Linked DNA regions of Homo sapiens. Each later gene encodes a partner of the first gene's protein in a complex. Each region holds a gene or a part of one and is shown on either strand. Other genes may lie near its edges.

Region 1 (3,901 bases):
GTGATTCTCCTGCCTCAGCCTTCTGAGTAGGTGGGATTACAAGCACCTGCCACTGTGCCCAGCTAATTTTTGTATTTTTAATAGAGATGGGGTTTCACCATGTTGGCCAGACTGGTCTTGAACTCCCAACCTCAAGCAATAGTCGTGTCCTGGCCTCCCAAAGTGCTGGGATTACAAGCATAAGCCACCATGCCTGGTCCCAAACAAAATTTTTTTTTTTTTTTTTTTGAGATGGAATCTCCCTCTGTCGCCCAGGCTGGAGTGCAGTGGCACGATCTTGGCTCACTGCAAGCTCCGCCTCCCAAGTTCATGGCATTCTCCTGCCTCAGCCTCCTGAGTAGCTGGGACTACAGACTCAAGCCACCACGCCTGGCCACATTCCACAATTTAGAGAAAGGTCACAACCTGGAATCCTAGGGAGACCCCAGTTCACCTCAAAACTGCCACTAAGGAGGTAAAACGCTGCCCCTCTGAGGCAGGCTTCAGTTTCCCTGTGTGTGAAATTGACCTGGCGCTGGGAGAGGCTGGTGGAGGCGCGGATTTTGCAGTTTCCCTACAACATTCTGGAAGCCTGTGGTTCTGGGAAAGGGTGGCGTGGAGAAGACTGGGAAACAGTCAGTAGTTACCAGACCTGTCAGCACCTCCTCCGCCTCGGAGCTCTGGGGCTGGGAGTCCCCAGGCTTCGGGGGGCCCCTGTGGAGGACACAGGTGGCCCCCTCCTTCCTGACATCTCAGGAGAGGGAGGGGGCAACCACCTAGGGGAAGAAAAGAATAGACAGGTTATAGAGGCAGGTGGGGAAGGGGCCAAATCCCTGAACAACCCCTTCCCAGAGTTCCTCTTCAAGTGCAGGGTACCCAAGAGTCAAGGCCCCGCCCCCTTTCCAGAGGCCCCTTTTCTACCCAGGTGATGGCTCCTGGCTGGGATGGGAAGCAGATGGAGGGAGGGGAAGGGAGAATAGGGGAAGGGAGAGGCAGTGGATGAAGGAGGCTGGAAGAGATTACATCCCCCTCGGCCCATTCATCTCCCAGATGGGGCGGAACTGGCCTGGACACCCGGGTCCCTGAGGGCCCACACTCAAGAAGCCCTGGTTCCCCAAGCTGCTTCCTGGAATGTTCCCTCCTCACAGGACAGGCCAGGGCCCGCCCAAGACTTCTGCACATACCTGGAGTGGCTGCCTGCCCTGGCTCCTCGGTACAGGAAAGGGGAAGGGTGGAGAGTGAAAGGAGCCCAGGCTGACCCAACCAGGACCGCCTTCTCCCTCAGACCGAGTAGTGCAGACCCCAGGGCCTCCACCTTCAGACCCAGGAGTTCAGATCCCCAGCGCCCTCCTCCCTCAGACCCAGGAGTAGTCCAGGCCCCCAGCGCCCTCCTCTCTCAGACCCAGAAGTCCAGGCCCCCAGCACCCTTCTCCCTCAGACCCAGGAGGAGTCCAGGCCCAGGCCCCCAGCACCCTTCTCCCTCAGACCCTGGAGTCCAGGTCCCCAGCGCCCTCCTCCTTCAGACCCAGGAGTCCATGCCCCCAGCGCCCTTCTCCCTCAGACCCAGGAATCCAGGCCCCCAGTGCCCTCCTCTCTCAGACCCAGGAGTTCTGGAATTCAGGCCCCTCCTTCTCGGATACTAAGAAATGCAGACTCCGGGTTCCTCATCCTCCAGATTTGGGTTGGGGGTTCCGGACTCCGAGACCCCTCAGGGGAAACCGGCTGCATATCTGGGACACTTCCCTCTTGCCTCAGTTTCCTCCGCCAAGCCCCGCCCCGGTCGGCCCCGCCCCCGTCCCTCCCCACCCGAGGGCAGGGCGACCAGGACGCCGGAATCCCGAGGGAGGAGGAGTGGAGATCTTACCTGGGGCGCCCTCTTCGGCTCCCGCGGCTGCCCTCCGCCCGGCAGCAGCTCCTCCTCCTGCTCGCTGGCTGCAGGGACGCTCGCTGGCCCGCCGGGTGCTAGCTGCTCACGCTCCGCAGGGCCCGGGTCGGGGGCGGGGGCGGGGCGGCGCCGGGCGGCAGAGGAGGGGCCGGGGGATCCTGCCTTGCACTCGCGTGCCGGGACCTTGGAAGCCAGGCCTGGCTCGTTCAACGCGGCCGCCTTGGTCACAGGAGTCCCAGTTTCCAGCTGCCTCCTCCTTTGGACCTAGCAGTCCAGGCCCCCAGCCCCTCCTCCCTTCAGACCCAGGAGTCCAGGCATCCGGCCCCTCCTCCCTCAGACCCAGGACTTGCGACCCCAGCCACCTCTCCCCCCAGCCCCAGGCGCCTGAGTACTAAGCCCACAGTTCCCCCCACCACCTCCCAACCCCGCCCCGTCTCAGACTCAGGAGTCCAGCCCCCAGCCTCCTCCTCCATTAGCCCCAGGAGTCTGGGCCTGAGATTCCTTTGCCGTCTTTTGCCAATTGCGTGTCAATCCCGGGGCAGATTCCCACCCTCTGCTCTCCTCCCCACTTCCCAGGAGCTCCACGCCAGACATTAACCAGCTGGGCTTGGGCAGTGATAAGGCCCCAGGCCCGGGGAGACAGTGGATGTGGGGGCTCCCGCATACTCCTCTCCCCTGGAATTTCCTGGCTGGGGACCGGGGAGAAGGTCTTGTCCTGAGCTCAGATAAGAGACGTGCAAGGTATCATAGGACCAGAGATAGACAGATGTGTCTTAAGAACAATCAGCTACCTTGAGAAATGGTGCGCGGTGACATGAAGGGAGAGATAGGGAGAAGACATGGAAAAGTGGGGAGAGACCAAAAGAAAGAGGGGGACCGAGACTAGAGAGAGTGGGGGAGGGCAGGAGCCCAGAGAGAAGACAGAGGCCCAGAGAGCGTGAGGGCAGACCCCCCCACCCCCCCGAGAAGGGGACAGAGCCCCTGAGAGACCCTGAGAAAGACAGGGATGGGACCGGAGCCGGAGTGTCTCAGGACAGTCATGAGGGCAGCGGGGCTCCTCACCCCACCACACCTCTACCCTGAGACTCCGCTCCCCTCCGCCTGCGCTATTTTCAGAAGGAAAACTGACACCTGCCTCGAGGGTCATCCCACACCCCCTCAGCCTAAATATAGCATGGCAAGGTGGCAGGAGGGTGTCCCCGGTTAGGGTGTTTCCTGCTCCTCACCATCCCAGCCAAGGCAACACACAAGGCCGCTCCAGTTATTTATTGGGGGTGGGGGGAAGGGCCACTTCCCAGGCTTTGGGTGTGCATTCAGGTCACCTCTCCGGCTTCTCCACCCTTCCCCTGTTCCTAAACAGCCAATACATCCTGCCGCATAGCAGGAGGACTCTAGCTTCTAGCTTCTAGCTTCTAGTCCTGGAGGGGATAGTAGGGATGAGGTTTCCAAACAGAGTGACTGGGAAACAGTCTCTGTCCCCCTATCTCCAGGTCTCTGTTCCCCTCCCTCTGGATTTCTGTCTCCCTCCAACTCTGGGTCTGTCCTTCTCTCTCTGAGTCTCTGTCCCCCTCTCTCTCTGGGTCTCTGTCCCTCTCTCTCTGGGTCTCTGTCCCCCTCTCTCTCTGGGTCTCTGTCCCCTTCTGTCTGTGGGTCTCTGTCCCTCTCTCTCTGGGTCTCTGTCCCCCTCTCTCTCTGGGTCTCTGTCCCCTTCACTCTCTGGGTCTCTGTCTCTCTCTCTGTCTCTGGATCTCTGTCCCCCCTCTCTCTGGGTCTCTGTTCCCCCCCAGGTCTCTGTCCCCCCTTCTCTCTGGGTCTCTGTCCCCCTCTTTCTAGGTCCCAGTTTTCTTCTCTCTGGATATCTGTCCACCCTCTCTGGGTCCCAGTCTCCTTCTTGCTGAGCCTCTTGCATCCTCTCTCTTGGGGTCACTGTCTGCTTCTCTTTCCCCTCGTGGGGGTCTCTGTTCCCGCTCCCGGCCATCTGCCCTCTTCCCCCTTGCCCTTGGATTTCTCTCTTTTGCTCTGTGCCTCTCCTCCCTC
Region 2 (3,901 bases), on another chromosome or scaffold:
GAGAAATTTTAAAAATATATATAATAAGTAAATTATCTGTCCAAAGGACAAACTGCTATGGTTGAAATAGTAGAGCAGAAGTAGGGTGATTAGAAGTAGGACCGCAAATCCTAATTTTAAGTGGGAGATAGTGGAATATATTTAGAATCCAACTATAATAGTAGCATATATTTACTCTAATAGAAACTCTACAAATATTCCAACATAATTAGACTCTTCTGGTGTACAAACCACCGTAAGACTGCCTATTCTCCATACCGCATTGACATGCTGCAGCCACTAGGGCGAAAATGGGCCGTTTCTTAGAAAAATGGGCTCAGAGTATGGGAGTGTGAGAGAAATGTGGGTGATTACGCACACACTCCTTCCTTCCCCAAGTGTTCCTCAGGGGCTTCTCCGCTTAAGGTTCACTGACAAGACAGGCGGAGTTTTACGTGCGTCTGAGACCAGGTCATTTTTGCCCTTGGCGTCTCTTCCTTGGCGCGTCCTCACCTAGTAGAGAATAGAGGCGCAGCTCAGGAGTAAACTTCAGCCTGGCCGTTCACCACTCGATGTGTGTTACAGCCGAGTGACAGTGGTGAGATAGACCTGCTGGCCTTGCTTTCGGGACCTGCAGCAAGATTTTTGGGTGCTGTCCAAGAATTCCCGCGGTTACACTCAGCGCCCAGGATCTGTACAAAAAAGCCCCAATAGATGTTTTACGTTCCCTTCGTAATATTTAACGCTTGGCCTAGATCCGAGCATTCACTCTAACGTTCGGTTTCTTGATCCTTCCCATCCCCAAACTCTGCGGGTAGATCAGTGACTATTACTATATTTTGAACGAGACTCCAACCCATTGCTCTCTCGAGAGAGAAGGATTGCCCGCCTTTTTCCCCCGGGCAGGAGCTCGGCGAGGCCAGGAGAGCCGCGCACCGGCCGGGCAGGGACGCGCAGGCGTCGGGCGCCGCTGGTTGCGCATCTGGCGCCAGAGCGCGCCCCCAGCGCTGTGCCCGCCGCGACCCGGGCCATGGGCTGGTGCTCCGGAGCGTGCCGGGCGCTCTCTCCCCGCGCGGGGGCACCAGAGCCCTCGGAAGTGTCAGGCACTGCGGTGTATTTTCCCCGTTCTCTTTTAAATGACTGCGGAAAAACAGATTCCGAGCCGCAAAAGGGAAGACGGATTCTCAGACAAGGCTTGCAAATGCCCCGCAGCCATCATTTAACTGCACCCGCAGAATAGTTACGGTTTGTCACCCGACCCTCCCGGATCGCCTAATTTGTCCCTAGTGAGACCCCGAGGCTCTGCCCGCGCCTGGCTTCTTCGTAGCTGGATGCATATCGTGCTCCGGGCAGCGCGGGCGCAGGGCACGCGTTCGCGCACACCCTAGCACACATGAACACGCGCAAGGTACGGCAGGGGAGCAAGGGCTTGGGATGCCCTACGTGGGGGTGGGCATCGCGGGGAGTGAATCCACGATCTGGGAATGGCTACATCCCGTCAGGTTAAAGGATGAGAGAAAATGACGCGGCGCCACACATCGGACAGGCCAGGGTGGCCACCGAGCATTTAGAATACGCATCAGGCGCGCTCCCTTCCCCTCACATGTCTCTATTTCCCGGGCGTGTGATGGCAGAAAACGGCAGGAAAAAGACCCACTTAGAGAGCTAGAATTGTGTTTGGAGACTCCCTTCCCTCTGCAAAAGCACCAACAGGAAGCCCCTCCAAAACCACCGATCCCCAAATAGGTGGCCCGGAATGGGGGCGGTGATCCTTGGTTACCAATGCAGAACACGTTTTGGTGTTTACAACATTTATTTATTTTTAGGATAGCTTGCCCTCCCTTTTAGGCAGGGTGGGAAAGGAGAACGCGGGGAGGGAGAAGGGAGGGAGGATTCCTATAATAAGAATCAGCGCATTTTTCAGAGCTGAACCAAGCACGGTTTCCATTTCAAAAAGGGAGACAGCCTCTACCGCGATTGTAGAAGAGACTGTGGTGTGAATTAGGGACCGGGAGGCGTCGAACGGAGGAACGGTTCATCTTAGAGGTACCTGGATGTAAATGCACACACACACACAGACACACACACGCACGCGCGTGCATGTCTACACGGCCAGGATGTGTGCGTGTGTGCGCGCGTGTGTGAACTCCCACATGCTGCTGCTGTCTGCTTCTGGCCAGTGGCACCGATGCCTCCCTCCTCCCTGCTCGCCCCCAGATTCCCCTCCCCTCCCTGGTGCTTTTGTCTGGAGGGTGTTATGGGTTTGTGTGTGTATGAGCGTGTGTGTGTTTTTGGATTTCAGACTAATTTTCTGGAGTTTCTGCCCCTGCTCTGCGTCAGCCCTCACGTCACTTCGCCAGCAGTAGCAGAGGCGGCGGCGGCGGCTCCCGGAATTGGGTTGGAGCAGGAGCCTCGCTGGCTGCTTCGCTCGCGCTCTACGCGCTCAGTCCCCGGCGGTAGCAGGAGCCTGGACCCAGGCGCCGCCGGCGGGCGTGAGGCGCCGGAGCCCGGGTGAGCAGCGCAGATAGTGCCCTCGGTCGCCTCGGCCCTCACTGTCTCCCCCTGGGGCGGCCTCGGCTACTCCCCAGGTGGGACGTGCCGCGCCACCTGCCCGCGCCACCGGCACCCAGCGGCCGTGGCGGATTCTGCAGCATCATTCGGGGGCCCCGTCGCGGAGCCAAAGCCGCCGGCAGTCTCCGCATTCCCCTTTAAAGGGTCCTTCGCCCGGCCTGTACCATGGAATCCTGTCTTGGGGACCCTTTCCCTACCTCCCCTCCCTTGGCCTCAGGCTCGAAGAGAGAGTGGGCACACTGGTGGCTCCAGCGGCGTCAGTGCCATCGCGGGGCAAGTTGATTCCTGGGCCGGAGCTGGGCACTCATCCATCCACAGTCTCCGGGCTGGGGTCGGGGTGGGGATGACGCGAGCAGAGAGGGAGAGTGCCCCAATTAGTGGTGTTGGGGGTCCTACGCTCAGTCTTACGCGTGTCTGTTTGTCCTCAGCCTCGAGGTGCATACCGGACCCCCATTCGCATCTAACAAGGAATCTGCGCCCCAGAGAGTCCCGGGAGCGCCGCCGGTCGGTGCCCGGCGCGCCGGGCCATGCAGCGACGGCCGCCGCGGAGCTCCGAGCAGCGGTAGCGCCCCCCTGTAAAGCGGTTCGCTATGCCGGGGCCACTGTGAACCCTGCCGCCTGCCGGAACACTCTTCGCTCCGGACCAGCTCAGCCTCTGATAAGCTGGACTCGGCACGCCCGCAACAAGCACCGAGGAGTTAAGAGAGCCGCAAGCGCAGGGAAGGCCTCCCCGCACGGGTGGGGGAAAGCGGCCGGTGCAGCGCGGGGACAGGCACTCGGGCTGGCACTGGCTGCTAGGGATGTCGTCCTGGATAAGGTGGCATGGACCCGCCATGGCGCGGCTCTGGGGCTTCTGCTGGCTGGTTGTGGGCTTCTGGAGGGCCGCTTTCGCCTGTCCCACGTCCTGCAAATGCAGTGCCTCTCGGATCTGGTGCAGCGACCCTTCTCCTGGCATCGTGGCATTTCCGAGATTGGAGCCTAACAGTGTAGATCCTGAGAACATCACCGAAATGTGAGTTCCTGGAGCTTTTCCTCCTTTTTCTCCTTGCCCCTAGGGCCCGAGCTGGCCAGGTGGGTAGGTCCTGGAAGTGAATGCTGTCCCAAGAGTGGGGAGAAGTCAAAGACAAGGGATGCAGGACAGGGTCATCTGTCAGTTACCTGCTGTTTCACTGGCTTGGGACTGCTAGTGCAGGGAGAAGTGTGACACTTTAGAATAAGTTTCAAATATAGATATACATATGCCGATTATATATTTATTCCTCGTGGGAAGGAACTCACTATGCTTTTTATATTTCAAAGCTCTGCTGGGTGTGCTTTAGGCTTTCAGTATGCACTAACTTAGTTTTGGGCA

What was found.
Region 2: the proteins of NTF4 (region 1) and NTRK2 are in contact, whole or in part, in a crystal structure (PDB 1HCF), measured with the Homo sapiens proteins. Residues at the interface, in NP_001382418.1 of Homo sapiens: Gly81, Val82, Ser83, Glu84, Thr85, Ala86, Ser89, Arg90, Arg91, Gly92, Glu93, Leu94, Ala95, Asp98, Ala99, Ser101, Gly102, Trp103, Thr105, Tyr135, Phe137; in NP_001018074.1 of Homo sapiens: Phe291, Glu293, Thr296, Ser297, Asp298, His299, Cys302, Pro304, Thr306, His335, Val336, His343, Gly344, Cys345, Asn350, Thr352, His353, Met379, Gly380, Trp381, Pro382, Gly383.

The regions. Positions count from the first base shown.
Region 1 is NC_000019.10:49,063,108-49,067,008, forward strand, and holds the start of NTF4 (neurotrophin-4 preproprotein), read right to left. Parts: upstream 1,712-3,901; 5' UTR 632-1,711; exon of another isoform or gene 509-631; intron 1-508. UniProt on the Homo sapiens protein: Target-derived survival factor for peripheral sensory sympathetic neurons. May promote ameloblast differentiation and subsequent reduction in proliferation of ameloblasts.
Region 2 is NC_000009.12:84,667,399-84,671,299, forward strand, and holds the start of NTRK2 (BDNF/NT-3 growth factors receptor isoform a precursor), read left to right. Parts: upstream 1-2,330; 5' UTR 2,331-2,490; exon of another isoform or gene 2,491-2,823; intron 2,824-2,950; exon of another isoform or gene 2,951-2,978; 5' UTR 2,979-3,350; coding exon 3,351-3,562; intron 3,563-3,901. UniProt on the Homo sapiens protein: Receptor tyrosine kinase involved in the development and the maturation of the central and the peripheral nervous systems through regulation of neuron survival, proliferation, migration, differentiation, and synapse formation and plasticity.